Linked DNA regions of Homo sapiens: region 1 is linked to region 2. Evidence: fine-mapped expression QTL. A gene starts in region 2. The other region holds a variant in brackets. All regions are shown on one strand. Distances are between the middles of the regions. Region 1 has its middle 5.4 kb from the start of OR2B6. Region 2 holds the start of ZSCAN16-AS1 (ZSCAN16 antisense RNA 1).

What was found. PIP is the estimated chance that this variant, and not a neighbour inherited with it, causes the effect.
Region 1: its variant is the best candidate, but not a certain one, in a credible set for the expression of ZSCAN16-AS1 in whole blood (TOPMed, PIP 0.75).

Annotation. Positions count from the first base shown.
Region 1 is chr6:27,947,589-27,956,130 of GRCh38, forward strand. No RefSeq gene overlaps it. Among named protein-coding and RNA genes, the nearest start is that of OR2B6, 5.4 kb to the right of the region's middle. The variant G/A (reference allele first, on the strand shown) is at 4,035.
Region 2 is chr6:28,133,720-28,141,719 of GRCh38, forward strand. It overlaps ZSCAN16-AS1 (ZSCAN16 antisense RNA 1), which reads right to left and starts at 3,597. Exons shown (of 2, transcript NR_103456.1): 1 at 3,026-3,597. It also overlaps a transcript of ZKSCAN8 not described here. RefSeq lists an enhancer at 3,768-3,957.

The sequences.
Region 1 (8,542 bases), 190 kb before region 2:
GAAGTAAAGTCTATTCCCTGAGCCCTTGAATCTGAATTGTTTTGTGACTTCTTTGGTCCACAGAATATGCCAGAGGCTTTGCCTGCTTCCAACTCTCTTTCATGCTTCTCCAATTTTATCTTGAGAACATGCTCAGGATAGCAAAGTGAAAAATGACATACACTGAGTAGAGCTATTTTAGCCCAGTTTTCTTTCTCAACTGATGCTTCAGCCAAGGCTAGTAAAATTATTGTGCCAAACTGTATTGTCCACAGACACATGAATGAGACCTGAGGAGCTGAACCACTCAGCTAAACCAGGGACTTCTAAGCAAAAATAAGTATTTTTGGATGTCCCAGGGATTTTGTGGTTATTTCTTCCATAGTATTATATTGAAAATAGATAGCAGATACAATTTATGACTCCTTTTGTAGGGCCACCATAATTTAAATACCAAATCTGATAAGGACATTGCAAGAAAGGAAAACTAGGGACCAATCTCTTGTGAGCCTAGATATAAAAATCCTAAACAATTTTGTTAACCAATTTTATCTAGTGTTATACAAGAAGTATAGCATATTGCACTCGTGTTGTTTATCGCAGGATAGAGTGGTGTAACATCTGAAAATCATTTCGTACTATTTATCAATTTTTTAAAAAAATTTGGCAAATCTCTACAGATTTGGACAAAGCATTTGATAAAATCAAACCCCTATTTAAATCTTAGCAAACTAGGAATACAGTGAAAACTCACTTAAGCTGATGAAGAATACTTACAAGAAACCTGCAGCAGACATCATACACAACTATAAGGTATTGAATGAGACACAGAGGCCCACAATCATCACTTCTTTTTGGCATTATACTGATGGTCCTAGCTTGTGTAATAAGACAAGAAAAATAAATAAAATACACTAGAAATGGAAAGAAGTATAATTATCATTTTTTTCCCAATGACATGATTGTGTGTGTTCAAATGCAAAAGAGTCTACAAAGAAACTATTAGACTAATTAAATGCGTTCATGAAGGTCACTGGAAAACAGATCAATGCACAAAAATCAATTGTATCTATACATATCAGCAACAGATAAATAGTAAAATGAAATGGGGAGACAATTTGATCAAGATTTTGTGACAATAAAAATGACAGATTTTACTACAGGAGGTATTTTTAAAAGGAAGCCTCAAAAGAACACTTTTATCTTTGTACTCAAATAACTTCTTTTTGATAATTGCAGCATCAAATTAAGTGAATCACTAATTTGACTGTCCTGTTTTGAAGGAAACCTTATTGTTGTCTTCGGTTACTCCAGATATTTCTCTTATCACGTGATCTTACTATTCACTGTTTTAAAATCATTATTCTTATGAATTTCAGTATGGAAGGTTTTTATAATTGTAGAATTTCAGCATCTCCCCACACCACCCTCATTTCCTCTTAATGTGAGCCAACATCTTCAGCCTTTTCTGCTGTTATAGAATTTCTTTTACAGAAAATACAACTGGCTCACCTGCCTTATTGACATAGAATTTGATTCTAATTTTCAGCAAATTTGCAAGACAGAATTTTATATAAAACATTATGTTCTACCTCATTACTTTTCCTTTCCACAGTGCATTCATCATATATATACATGAAAGAACTTATTTCCACTCAATAATTTTTGCAAAACATTCAGTGCAAAGAATAACATAAAGTATATTTCAACCAAATATGGGCATCAGAATGAGATAAATATTGCTAAGGATTTATTCAGCTCCCCCACTAAAACATTCACACATTCCTATGCTTTCACAAACTAGAATACTATTTCTAAGACCACTAAGTTCTGTAAGGTTCTCAATGTCACACTTTTCCAAATTTTCCTATGCATTTGTGTCTAGCTTCCATTCTTGAATCCTTGCTTTTGGGGGCCTAGCTAGACCCTGCCTGAACTCTACATATACCCAATATACAGGTATAAGATACCAAGATTACATTTATGAAAAGGCCTGAATTCTTCCAGAATCATGCCCACTCTAATTTTGGGGGCAGTAATTAAAATTTGTTGAGTCATAATATCAGTTCATGGAAACCCATCTAATCCAAGAATGCTCCAAGTTTTATCTGAGCTTCTACATACTAAACATAATGATGTTGCTGACCTTCCCATCATAAAAGGGAAAATGTAAACTAAGAATGAGGTTTGGGTATCCTACTTTAATTTATACTGCAAATCAGCCTTGCTTCAGAACATGTTAAATTTTTACTTAGTCTCTCAAATATTTAATACTTGGTGTTTCCTAAAGTACTATTAAAACTGTCTTTCTCAATGCTCAGTTCCCTCTTATATACAAAGTTCTTCCTGAGAGCTAAGCCTGACTGATCCAACCCCCAAGGCTAGTCACTAAAATATTACTGTAGCCAAGCCTATTTCATTCTGATATAAGGAGAGGTAATTGATTAGATGGTCAGAAATTAATACACAAAATTATAGTTATATTGTTTCAAGAGATCTTTCACTACTAATCAAGTAAGTGGTCCTCTGGGAAATTAGAGTAAGTGGGGAGTGTTGAGTTTGGCAAGAATCATCCTTAAGCATTAGTCAAAGAGGAGAAATTAAACTTAAACCAAAATGTAGATTCATAGTATATCTAGGCTTTCTAACAAATTATGTTAATTTTGGAAAGTTTGTTTAACCTCTCTAAGCCTCCATTTCCACATTAAAAAAATAAAGATAAAGTGTAGCAATTTTATAGGACATTGTAAGCATAGTAAACATTGATACTATTATTATTAAACTACAGATTCTTCCCTGTTTCCAGTCCCTTTGATAACTGAGCATTATTTCTTAATTTTTCACTTTAAGGACTACTGAATTTTTTTAGTTTATTTACCTTGGTTCACTCTGCAAACTAAAGATTTGTCTTTATTTTCTTATTTGTTTAGCCCTCTGTTTTTTTTTCTTTAAATACTATTGCCTTTATTTAAATTATCTATTGTAAGCATTTATGAGAAAAAAGAAAATCCAACATTATAAACATTTTCCTCTGACTAATCCCGCCCTCACGCTCACTCTTACTTTCAGAGATAAGCACTGTTATTAGTTTGGGAAGGTTTTAAATGCTATACATTATTTTTTGTGGATTACATCTTAGTCTTTTTCCCTGGTTTACTTGATGCCCCTTCCTTCTCCCTTCACAGCTATCAGCCTCTGTGCTCCAGATTGCCCACATGAAGGAGCTAACAAGTGTTCTTTATTCTTCTTCACTCTCGTATAATTCCATGCAGGCGCACAATACATACAGTTATATTGAGAGTGTTTTAGTCATTGTTTATATAATTAAGATCATGTTATTTATTCTTTTTTACATCTTCATTTTCTCACTCAGCAACATCACAGGCAAATACTTCTGGATTAGGTTAATTACTAGTCAATTTCCTATTGAGAAACTAATTTTTTCTCTACTTTGGCCACCACAAACATTGCTACAATAAAAATTATTGTTTCTACGATTTGTGTACCAGTATATTTTATTCCATAGGATAGATTTCCATGAATGCCATTGCTATGTTGATGAACAGAGTATTTTTTTCAAGATTAACTGCCCTATTTATTTCTAAAATGTCAGTGACACTTTGAATTTCTAACCATAATTTATGAGAGGTTTTTTCCTTCAGCAACATTCAGGAGTTACTGCTAGTTACATTGTTTTTTCAATCTGATAAGTGACTCATCATTACTACTTTAATATATTTGTCTGAATATTTGGGAATTTAAAATCTTATATAGATTTGCTATTCTGAGTTCACAGTATGTATATGGTCATATTATTTAGCATTTTTTCAATTGTGTTATTTGTGTTTTTCTTGGGCTTTATAAAAACTCTATTTATATTGTAGATACCAACCTTTTACATAACCACAAATATATTTTCTCATATCTACTCATCCTTGAAAGCTGAGGAAACTATATATTAGAATGTATAAAAACAAATCCTGTATAGAAAAACTATAGAAAAATATAAATCTCTTTTTAATCTTGGAAAAAAATCTAGGAAATTACATTGACCC[G/A]AAGAGCTTTTCAACTAAGGCTAGAAATTCAAAATCTATGAAAGAAAAGAAGCCTATTTGGATATATAATGAAGAAAACTACTTTATGTAAATCAAGGTAAAAATATTTCTACATCAAATTAACTGGAAGCCTATTTTATTGCATAGATACTGACCTCAGGATTTCAGAGTAAATGGACAGTTTTCTGTGGCTTGACAGAACTTGATTAGTAAAAAGGAAACGAACACTCAGTTTAATGGCACAAAATCCAGACTTTATTTGATAAAGTATTTTAGTCCCTGCTGTCGTTCCCTTTTGTCTCAGAAACAATTGAGGAGACAATCCCCAGAGAAAGGGTATCAGGGAGCAAATCTAAACTAAAATGAAGTATCACATCACAGAGATCTCCTCCTTCTCTCTTCCCATCAGATACCATGGTCAATTACCATAAACCACATGAGGGTTGTTATCTTCCCCTGTAAGCCAGAGAACACCCGACATTCAAAAATAGTTTCCTATCCCTCTCATTTATTTTGTAAACCTGGTGAGGAGAATTCTGGAAAGATCAATAAATACCTTCATACTTGGTAATATAATATCAGAAAAACATGTCTGATCATCTGTAATGCTTTGTACCTATTCTCATATTTTCTAAATTAATCCTGAATGGATATCTTATAATTTGCCACTTACAGCGTGAAACAAGGGAAAAATGAACAAACTTCACCATATCAGTTTTTACAATTAATAGCTTACGAAGAGGTTATTGAATCCACATGCCTCCAGTTCATCCTATTTGAATTTAAAGCTTCTTGGACACACAAATCATCCTATCACTAATGCTTAAAATAGAGGTATGTAGAACACATTTAAGAAATTTATTATATAAAACCTGCTAAAATTTGGGTGTTTTGAGCACTTATGGACGTTTATGATTATCTCACTCAGAAAAATTTGACTAAGGCTCCAGTTTCTTAATTCCATTTATTTGTTTTATACTGCTATTTGCAATGTTTTGTTATCTCTACTGGAAATTAAAACTTGAGAGCAGAGCAGTCTTAGATTTGAACCTTCTGTCTGCCTATGAAAATAATCTAGCCTATGAAAATAATCTCTCTGAACCTCTAAATTCAGATTTCTACCTGAATAATTAACCTTTTGTGAAACAGACAAAAAATATTGGCAAACTTTTCATCTATTCTAAGCCAAATTGCACTGTTGTGTGAAAAATTACTCCTAGTATTTATCCTTATACTCCAGCAGGAACATGGGGGTTCACTGTAGTATATTTAAAGCTTTTTATACATTCTCAGAGGTATGATAATTATAGAAAACTTAGAAGCAAACAATTTTTATGTCGAATGGAAAACAGAAAACTCTGGTGTTACCATAGATTAAACTGCTTCCCAAAGCCATTGAGTAACTTGCCCAGTAGTGAAGTGACTTAGTAGCAGCATCTAAACTACAGCTGTTGTCATATTTCTTATCTCAATGCTCACTGCATAGTAAACAGCTTAAAATAAAGTTTTCAGGACTTTGTTGAACCTCGTCATTCAGAATCCTCTGTCAGCCATATACTGAATAACTTCAGTATGTAGCTGATGGATGCAATCCCAACTAATATACAAGCAAACGGGTGGTGATTGTATTTATTCAGACAATAAAATTGAAATATCCTGAGTTATGTATAGATAAAAGTTCTAAAGGTCCAAATAACCCTTTTCAACTGTTGCTTTTTACAGTACTCAATTTTGTTTTTGCTTTGTTTGTTATGTTTTGTTTTGAGACAGGGTCTCTGTTGCCCAGGCTGGAGTGCAGTGGTGCGATCATGTCTCACTGCAGCCTCAACCTCCTGGGCTCAAACAATCCTCCCACATCAGCCTCCTGAGTAGCTGAAACTACAGGCGCATGCCACCACACTCAGCTAATTTTGTATTTTTGGTAGAGACAGGGTTTTGCCATGTTGCCCAGGCTGGACTGGACTCAAGCGATCTGCCTCAGCTTCCCAAAAATGCTGGGAATTCCCAGACTCAAGCAATCAGCCCCAGCTTCCCGCTGGGATTACAGGCAGGAGCCACTGTGCCTGGCCCAATACTCACTTTTTCTTACCTGCAGTTGTAAGATAGTTGCTATGCAATCTGATCCCTTTTGTCTCACATTATGAAAATATGTTCCTATGTTGACCAAAGGAAAGCTCGTTAACTCAAAATGAGAATGATATCCTCTGAAGATGCTGTAAACAGAATTCTATTCAGGACCAGAGAAATAGATTGTGTAGCCTTTTGCGATCTCAGCCATGACTGGGCACCACCATCAGCACAGGTGTAATCAGGTAAATAATTGGTTATGCTATCTGCGAGGATTTCAGAGATACAAGATTCCTACTTGTTTCCATTGTTAACAAGTCCTTCCAATCCAATGATAGTGATAAGAATAACAATTCAAATTACTTGAAACTTCTGTGTGCAAGATAATATTTCAACTTTTTTTTTTTTTTTTGAGATGGAGTCTCACTCTGTTGCCCAGGCTGGAGTGCAGTGGCACTATCTCAGCTCACTGCAACCTCCATCTCTCAGGTTCAAGTGATTCTCATGCCTCAGCCTCCTGAGTAGCTGGGATTATAGGTGTGTGCTACCATGCCCAGCTAATTTTTGTATTTTTAGTAGTGAAGGGGTTTCACCATGTTGGCCAGGCTGGTCTTGAACTCCTGACCTCAGGTGATCCACCCACTTCAGCCTTCCAAAATGCTGGGATTACAGGCGTGAGCCACCACACCCAGACAATTTTTCAACTTTTTAACAAAAGTTCTCTCTTTTAGAGTGGATATGTAAAGAGGTTACTGGATATTTGAAAGATGGGGAAATTTTGCCCCAAAAGTTAGCAAAGCAGAATATAAGAATGAGTTGTACTACAGTCTCCCCAGTACTTTTGTTCTCATGCAGGAGAAATTTGGGGCAAAATTTCCCTCACTGCTGTGGATCATGGACATTACCTATAACAGAAGTGCATTTAATACTTTTGTAATTGCTGAACCTCAGTGAGAAAGAGTAGAAGTTAATTGAATTCCTCCCTTCTAGAATTTTCATTAGTCAGGGCTTCTTGGAGAGTTTGTTTTTGGCTGTATTCTAGCAGAGAAATGCCAGATACAGGGCTGGTCAGGGAAAGCCACTGGCCCAAGTAAGGAGAAAGCATATGCAGTGTCCTCAGTGATGAGGTATCTCTTGAACAATAATTTGAAAATTATTTTAGTCTCCAATATTACAGCTAGAGAGACCTTATAACTTATCACCCAAACATGAACTCTTTTGAAGACTGAAGGGTTCTATTAGTAATTGTGTCAGAACAGCAGGAGTAAACTCGCAGTCCTGTGCAAACTGAGATATGCAGTGACCCTAATTATATAGACTGAGGGTATTTTCCAACACTTGTTAATTCAAGGAAATTGTGAACTTGTGAAATCTCTTTTTATGGATTCCATTTGTTCTGCTTTTCAGAATTCCTATAATGAGTGGCAACTCTTTTTGATTTTTTTTTGTCAATAAGATGCCGAATGCCCAATGCCCTTGCATTCCAGTCTTTAGAAAATGTCCATGTAGATTAATGTAGATCCTGTTTTAAAAATTTGTTGAGATAAAAGTCTAAATTCATATAAGATTGTTTCAGTTATAAAGTCTAAAGCAATGCTTGTCTTTATAGTAAAACATACAGTATGAATATGTCCTCACTTAAAGTTATTATATAATACATAATAATCTTTATTAATAATAAAAAGCATTATATTTGTTAAAAATTAGAAAAAGCAAGGATAAAGTTAAATATCAAAATCTGATTTTTCTCCCTCTTTCCATTTCCATTCCCCAGAAGTAACAGCTTTTAACACTTCTGTATACTTCCAGGTAATTTTATACATATATGAATACTGACCAATATGATTATATTCCCTTATGTAAACACATGGAAGCATGCTAAATACATGTTCAGAAACTTGTTTTTTTCCTTAAGGATTTGAATGTTTTTGTACATGTATATCTATATCTGAATTTATATCTATACCACATTCCTAATTTTATTGACAGCTGCATAGCATGTCAATAATATGCAGCTGTCAATAATATGCAGGGACTCATTTGAGAGGCTATAAAAGCTTTCCCTGCCATTTTATACTGAGAACTGTAGAATAAGTGAGCAAAATTGAAATACATATTGAATAATAGTTTAAAATTTATGATCCTATCCTTAAATTGACATTTTTACACTAACAAAATTATAATAAAACAATAGAGGGTGGTGGTAGCAAGATAGATGATTTGGAAATTTTTAACTGGTAGCATTGACTTATATTAGTACTTAGCAAATTTAGGGCTCTGAACAGCCTCTGCCCCGAATGTCTCAGAGTTCCTGTGTCATATGATACTTTCATTCACATTGCTGTGTGCCATTATACCAGGTAATTTACATTAAAGATCACATTTATACTTCACATCAGATAGTTATTATTATCTCTGTTGTTAAAGTTGATGGTATTGGA
Region 2 (8,000 bases):
GAGATAGGAAAGATAGACAAGTGATTCTAATATATTGGCATCAATTGTTGGAGACAGTGGATCATATGATACAAGCCATATAAAGGTAAAAAGACCAGCTCCTGATCCCAAGGTGCTTTGAGTCTTACGTGTACAGCACACACTATATTATCTTTATTAAATGGTCTACATTCTCATCTTGAGCATGAAATTATTCTATTTTAGTCTGATCACAAAATCCATCAACAGTGGAAACAAATGGAAACTGAAATGCTTCAAAACAACCTGTTTTTCCCATGGTAATATCACAAGGGAGTTAGGCTGAGGTTTTAAAAGAGTGGGTATGTCAGTCTTTCTTATTCAGATCCTCTAGAGCAAGGTTTCTCAACCTTGAGAAACTATTTCTATTGACATTCTGGGCCAGACAATTCTTTGATGTAGGGGCTGTCCTCTGCACTGTAGGATGTTTAGCAGTATCCCTGGCGTCTACCCACTAGATGTCACTAGCACTTCCCACTTGTGATATCCAAAAATGTCTCCAGGCAATTTGGTGGGCAGGCTGAGTGAGGCAAATGTCCCCTGAGAGGCAAAATCACCCCCAGTTGAGAACCCCTGCTCTATAGGAAAATAATCAGATTTCTACGACTCTTCCACATCATACACAATAAAATTCTACTTAGAAATGCTACATGTGGCCGGGCACAGTGGCTCAAGCCTGTAATCCCAGCACTTTGGGAGGCCGAGGTGGGTGGATCATCTGAGGTCGGGAGTTCCAGACCATCCCGACCATCATGGTCAGGGTCTCTACTAACAATACAAAATTAGCCAGGCCTGGTGGTGCATGCCTGTAATCCCAGCTACTCAGGAAGCTGAGGCAGGAAAATTGCTTGAACCCAGGAGGCGGAGGTTGCGGTGAGCCGAGATCATCGTGCCATTATACTCCAGCCTGGGCAACAAGAGCAGAAACTCCATCTCAAAAAAAAAAAAAAAAAAAAGAAAGAAAGAAATGCTACATGTGACCAGCACTACTGGACCCTTTTCCTACCCCAGAAAATTATTCCCAACATACCTAAAATCTATGCAGCCTTGATGCTAAAAAGTAGTCTACTTTAGAAAGCCTTACCTCATTTACTAGTGAGGACTAGTAATGTGACTTAAATGTGACTTGCATAAACAGCTTACACTGCATTTTTGCAGACCTTCCCCTTCCCTCCTTGCCACACTTCTGGTGCAATTTTCTTCTTTGCCCCTTGACCCAATCATGAATATAGACATTTTATCCTTGATCTAAATCTGTGCTGTCCAGTGTAGTAGCCACGAGGTACATTTGGCTCTGCAACTGAGGAACTAAATTTTTAATTTTAATTAAACTTTAAAACTCATAATTCACTAGATAACTTTTAAGTATGTTTGAAATAATTTGGATATGTGAATCTATTTTTTTATTTTAAATTTTATGTAATCTCAATATAGATTATTTATGAAAATATGTGAATTGAGATGTCCAATAAGTATAAATACACTGGCTTTCAAAAAATGGAATATAGGATATTTCATTAATAATTTTTATATTGATTAGATGTTGATATAGTAATATTTTGGATATGATGGTTTAAACTAAAGATAATTTCACCTGTCTTTTTACATTTTTAATATGGCTATTAATAAGAATGTTTTAAATTACATAGGTGAATCCCATTATATTCCTATTTATTAGATAGAACTGACCTTCAGTTCTGCAGAAAACCATTCCACACGAAAGGGAGAGGTAATGCAAAGTCTCTGAATAGGGATGAATTTGGTGTGTTACAGGAACTGAAAAAGGCCACGTGTTGAAAGCACTGGATTAAGGGGAAGGTGACACAAGATTAGGTTAGAGAGGTGAACAGGGGCCAGGATGTGTATTCTAAACGTGATGGGGAACTACTAGAAGGGAGGAACATAATCCAATGTTTGTTTAGAAAAGATCATTCTGGCTCCTTAAAGAGGCAAGAATGAGAAAAGAGCAGAAGTAAGGAAATCAGTCCAGAGGCTACTGTAGTAACCCAAGTGAAAGAAGGTAGTGGCATGGACCATGGGTTCACAGTGGATATAAAGAGAAACAAACAGACTTAACGTACATTTTGGAGATGAAAATATAATCTTGCTCATTGTTGTAGATTCCTAAATTCTGCTTGAAAAGATGTTTCTGTATTAGGTTAAACAAATGAAATCCCTGTTTTTGTGGGTCAAAATGGTTAAATACCAGAAATGTAAAATGATTTAACCTAATAGAAACAAATAACGACAGAGAAGAATCAGAGGAATGATACAGGAGAAGGGACGTTGAAATGGGGCTTATTTATTAAAATGAAAATTTTTATTGTTCTCCTTAAATCTCTGTGGAAGCCACCCTTATCAAAAAAAAAAAAAAAAACCCTTTGTTGAAAGGCAAATTGCCAACAAACCCGATGAGATTCAGAACACTGCTGCAATAACATATCTCTGTAGAAACTTATACTTCCATCTGGATAGCAAATTTCCTAAGCTGATAAAACCAGGTTATCAATGAAAGGCCAGAGTACAGAATTTAAAGGAAGAATGCCTGGGTATGAATCTTTGTTCTGCCAGTTACTAGTTATATGACCTTGGCTAATACATTTTTCTCTCTGTGCCTCAGGTTCCCCATCTGTAAAACAGTATTATAATGATATCTACCTCATAAAGTAGGAATTAAATGAGTGACCAAATGTGAAGGGTTTAGAACAGTGGCTGGCCCATAATGTTAAAGTCTTAGCCCCTAACAGCGCACTTAGATCTTTTTGTTAGCATTAAATTCAGCATTTTCTTCCTATCAAAGCTGCTTAAATCAGTTAACTGGCATTTGATCTTCGTGGGCTCATTGTATTGTTGCTGTTGTGTATCTTTTTAAATAATACTCGTAATCTTAACAATTAGCATAATTTTGAACCGCTCCCTAATACCTAACCCCAATCCCAAACCGGACGGTCGAGCCTATCCACCGGCAGAGAACACCACCCAATCTCGCCCTCACTCTGACACTCACCGGCCAGACCTTTTCTTCCGTCCGTTTTCTGCCTCTGGCCCAGGGCCCAGCTCACGTAGCGTTTTCGGGGGCTGTTTGGGAACCGTTAGCAACCGGAAGTGGCTAGAGGTCGCGAGAGAACTGAAAAAGGGGACCGGCCTTTCCCGGCTGCCTAAGCACTTGGGTTCCGGCCTGGAAGGAGGCCCAGGGCTCCCACAAAGAGAAATAAGGGACCTATTTGGATGGATCCCAAGAAACACTGTCTGGCATCTGATTTGAACGAGGCTCGGCGCAGCCGGGCCCTTTTCGCAAAGTAGGCCCACTGCAGACCTGTGGGAACCTCCGGGATGCCTGGGGACCCGCATCTGCCGCTACCCGCAATTTCCTATCCCGACCCTCTCTGCAGTTGTCGACCCCGGCCGGCGGCTTTGAGCGTGGGGTCCCGCAGACCCTGGCACCTAGGGGGCCGAAGCCGAGGGATCTTGGGGTAGAAGAGCGGTCCTACAGAGCTGCCGCTTCGAAAGAGCCCCCAATCGACCGCTGATGGGGAATGGAGGATTTTGCTGTTTTATTGCAGCCCGCCCCCGGAGAAAGGCGGGCTCGGACGTTCTTGACTTTAGGATAGACTGGGGAGGGGTGCCGAGGAGCGTTCTTCCCTTTACGTCTCGCGGTCGCAGACTGTATTTGCTGGTGCCCTGCTCACTGTGATCTCGCAGGACCTTGCGGACTTACGGAGACGAAAAGTGGCCTACTTTGAGCTTCTCTGATCCTTAGGGGAAATGAGTGTCCAAAGAGAAATAGGTGCAGAGTGCCGGCACTAGAATTCTTTAAACCTGGATTCAAATTCTGACTCCACCACTCTCCAGTTAGGACTGAGGGCAATTTATTTTTAACTTCTCCAAGCCTCTGTTTACTCGTTTATGTAACTCAGGCTAATAACGTAGTGTCTATTTCATAGGGTGGCTTTGACTATTAAGTGTGAGAGTGCATGTAAGAACAGTCTAAGGGAATTTCCCTGCCTTTCCCCTTGTCTGCTGTCACTCTCATCCGTGTTAGACAAATGGAATTAATTAACCAACTTCCGCTTTTCTGAAGCACGGGTAAAGAGTGAAGTGCAGGACTTGGGTAAAGGAAAAACCAAGAAGGATGCAAAAGATGGATGGTCATTGTGAGATCCACAGAGGTGCTCATCCCAGCACTTTCACCTCACTTGGCATCTGTCACATGGTGGGTGCTTGATAAGTACATGGGTGAATGAGGACCTACCTAAGCAGAAGGAATTATTGAATAAGACTAGAATTGCAGGGAGAGGATGAATCAGATTGATTAGCTACTTGACAAAAAAAGGCAAACCACTCTTCCTGTCAGAAATGTATGGCACATCTGCATATTTCAAGGGCTGCCACTTACTGCAACTGGGAAGGAGATCTCAGAACCGACACCTCAACTATGGAAGCTTTAATCTATTGACAGCAAATGCAACATAGCAAGTAATATAAGACAGAATGTGATCAGTGCAAAATCGAATAATAAAGTCTTGAGAGGGGGTTATTAGAATAATAGACGAGTGTTTAGATTGAGTAGTGAGCAATGAGATAAGTCCTTTGACTTGGGGGTACAGGGGAATTATGACCAGGGGTATGGGATAGGGAGAAGGTCATTCTGGAAGGCAATAAAAGGCAGACAGGACGCTAGTGGTAGAAAAAAAGGAAAACACTTGTTTATCAATGTAAATCAATGGCGGAAGAATTACATATGACATATGCTATTGAGGAATACCTTTCAACCGTTCAAATGACAAAAGGAGTGTCAGAACAATATATATTCCATTTTTGTTGAAAAAATTTGTTTATATAGATATAATTTGTGGGGTATTTGTACAAGAAAAGGATGCACTCCAAACTTAACAGTGATTACCCCATATTGAAAATTGTGAAACTTTTACCCTACTTGCAAGCTAACAATTTAACTTGCCACAGTTTTATGGATACTAACAGAAGACACTGGACTCCTGCGTCAGAGACAGAAGACTTTATTACTTAATAACACAGGCATCATAAGCTTTATATTCCCTTGTTCCCAAAGCTTATGTTCCCAAAGCCCACAGAGGGGCCTAAGCTTGGCATTCCCCTGCTAGGATGGAACAGTGGGTTTGCAACCTAGCAGAGGAATGCCAAGCTTAGGAAGCCCAACCTTTGCTCAGCCTTGCCCCAGAATGAGCCATTATCTTTATTATCCTGGTCAGGAAACAACTGTGATCTAGAAGGAGATACAAACATCCTTGAAAACCTAACCTCAAAGAAAAATCTACCATAAGACTAGGAGTAATTTGAGAAGCCATTAAAGAATTATCTCCCAACATTCTAGGTAAATACTATTTGAGGGTGGAGATGTCAGCTTTTAAGAATTTTATATAATATTAATCTTTATCATGTTTCATTTATTTTTAAAAATACAAAAAATAAAAGGCAAGCATAGAAGTTTAAATTTTACTTAGAGATAAGGAACCACTCAGGGTCAGTGATTGGAAGAATGATAATGATATTTAAGGACCACGTCTTGTATAGTTAGGAAGGCTATCTCAAGGCTGTTGCAGTCACATAGGTGTGAAGTAATTAGAACTGAGGATGGTGGTTATATTAATGGAGAAAAGTAACACTTCAAAGGAGAAATCTGGCTCTGATAATTTCTCCTTTATCTCCATGTTTCATTGAGTAAACTAAGGAAGCCTCTCAAGCCTGAATAACTTAGAAATTGGCGATATTATCAACCATTCTAACGGATATGTGGTGGTAACTCATTGAGGTTTTAACTTTGCATTTCCCTGATGAATAATGGTTACTTTTTAGTGTGCATACTGGCCATTCTTTTATCTTTTGTAAAGAAAGTGTTTAAATCTTTTGCCTATTGGTGTTGAATTATCTTATTCATTAAATTGTGAGAGTTCTTTATATATTCTGGATAGTTCTTTGTCAGATAGATGTATTACAAATATTTTTCAGTGTGTAGCTTTTTCTTCACTTTCTTAATGGTGCTTTTTTTGAGAAGATTTAAATTTTGATGAGAATTTAAGTTTAAAATTTTGAAGTCAAATTTATCAGTTTTATCTATTACAATCAGTGTCTGTGTGTCCAGTTTGAGAAAACTACCTATGGCATGACGCTATTTTACTTCCTATGTGTACACAACTTTGTACATAGTATGTGCAGTCATAGTTGTGTGCACATTGAATTTGTACAACTACATATGTGCACAACTTCAGACTTAAAAAAAATTTATTTGTTTATTTATGTTGAGACAGGGTCTTGCTCTATTGCCCAGGCTGGAGTGCAATGGCAGGATCTCAGCTCACTGCAGCTTCTGCCTCCCAGGCTCATGCGATTCTCCCGCCTCAGCCTCTGGAGTAGCTGGGACTACAGGAGCCCACTACCATGCCTGGCTAATTTTTGTATTTTTTGCAGAGATGGGTTTTTGCCATGTTGGCCAGGCTGGTCTCAAACTCCTGAGCTCAGGTGATCCTCCCGCGGCTTCACAAAGTGCTGGGATTACAGGCATGAGCCACCGCGCTCAGCCAAAAAAGTTACTTTTAAAATGTGAAAAAAGAAACTGAAAGTAGAGTTCTAGTCTGTCACCAGTTACTTCCAGTTACCATCCCAGGTGGAAAGCAACAGCTGTGAAATAAAAAGCAAAAATAATTACTTTGAAGGAGTCCAGAAGCACTGTAGCTTCCCAGTGTTTACTATTATTTACTTGTTTTCATGTGATAATTAGATGACAAAACCCTTAAATCAAAACGACTTTGTCAGTACGCAAAATATTGGGGAGTTAGTAATTGGGAAGGGATAGAAATGTTGGTGGTGGCTACCAGCAGGAGCAGATAAAGAGGGAAATTAAGGTGAAAATTGGAGGAGCCCTGAGAACTCAATAATAGGTGGTTGGGAAAGGTGCTGAAGGAAATAAATACATGAGACTTAAACAACAAAAAATAACACTTGCCACAACCTCCACCCCTGAAATCCTATTAGTCTCAAAAGTTAAAAAGCTCTAATGCAACAGGTCTGTAAAGAATGAACACAGGGCCAGGGTGGTGTCTCATGCCTGTAATCCGAGGACTTTGGGAGACTGAGGCAGGAGGATCACTTGAGCCCAGGAGTTCAAGACCAGCCTGGGCAACATAGTGAGACCCCCGCCCCGCCCCGCCACCCCGTTTCTACAAATTTTCTTTTTTAAGCTGAGGGTGGTGCACACCTGTAGTCCCAGCTACTTGGGGGGCTAAGGTGGGAAGACTGCTTGAGCCCAGAAGGTTGAGTCTGCCGTGAGCTATGATCACACCACTACACTCTGCAATAGAGACCCTGTCTCAAAAAAAAAAAAAAAAGGCAAAAAAAGAAAAAAAGACTAACAAAGAAAGAATGAACATAGATTTGTTCCCCATATCTTGTGGTATTAAACCTAGGGTCTACTCTTCAAGCTTACATCATAGGTTTAGCATTAAAACAGCTAAGCAGCAAAGCAGATGCTGTAAGCGATAGAAATTCATTAAGATAGGAAAGAGTGGGAAATATGTAAAGATCCAAAAAGAATATATATTTAATTACGATTTTTTTGAATACTTAATAAAATATGCTATTCCTAAGTGCCATGCCATAGGGATTTCACAAAACTATGAACTGTGATTAGCAGGAATTCCTCATGAAGTTTGTACTCTATGTGAGAGGTCTGGATATGTTTATGAATCGAGAACAGTAAAGTACAGGGTATGTAACGGAGCCAAACGCGAATCCAGTTGGAATCCTAAGGATCCATGAAGTGCTCCCTCCTCCAACACTTTCCCAGCCTCCTATTCACAGCTCCAGCCTCCCCACGTCCGATATCTACCCCCAGGGGACCGTTACTATTGACAGCGAGCGCGCGGAGCTGCATGGGCACACAAGGCGGAGGGGACACCAAGGTCCGTTATTCCCCAGCACGTTCACTGCCCCAGCGACAGCGCAAG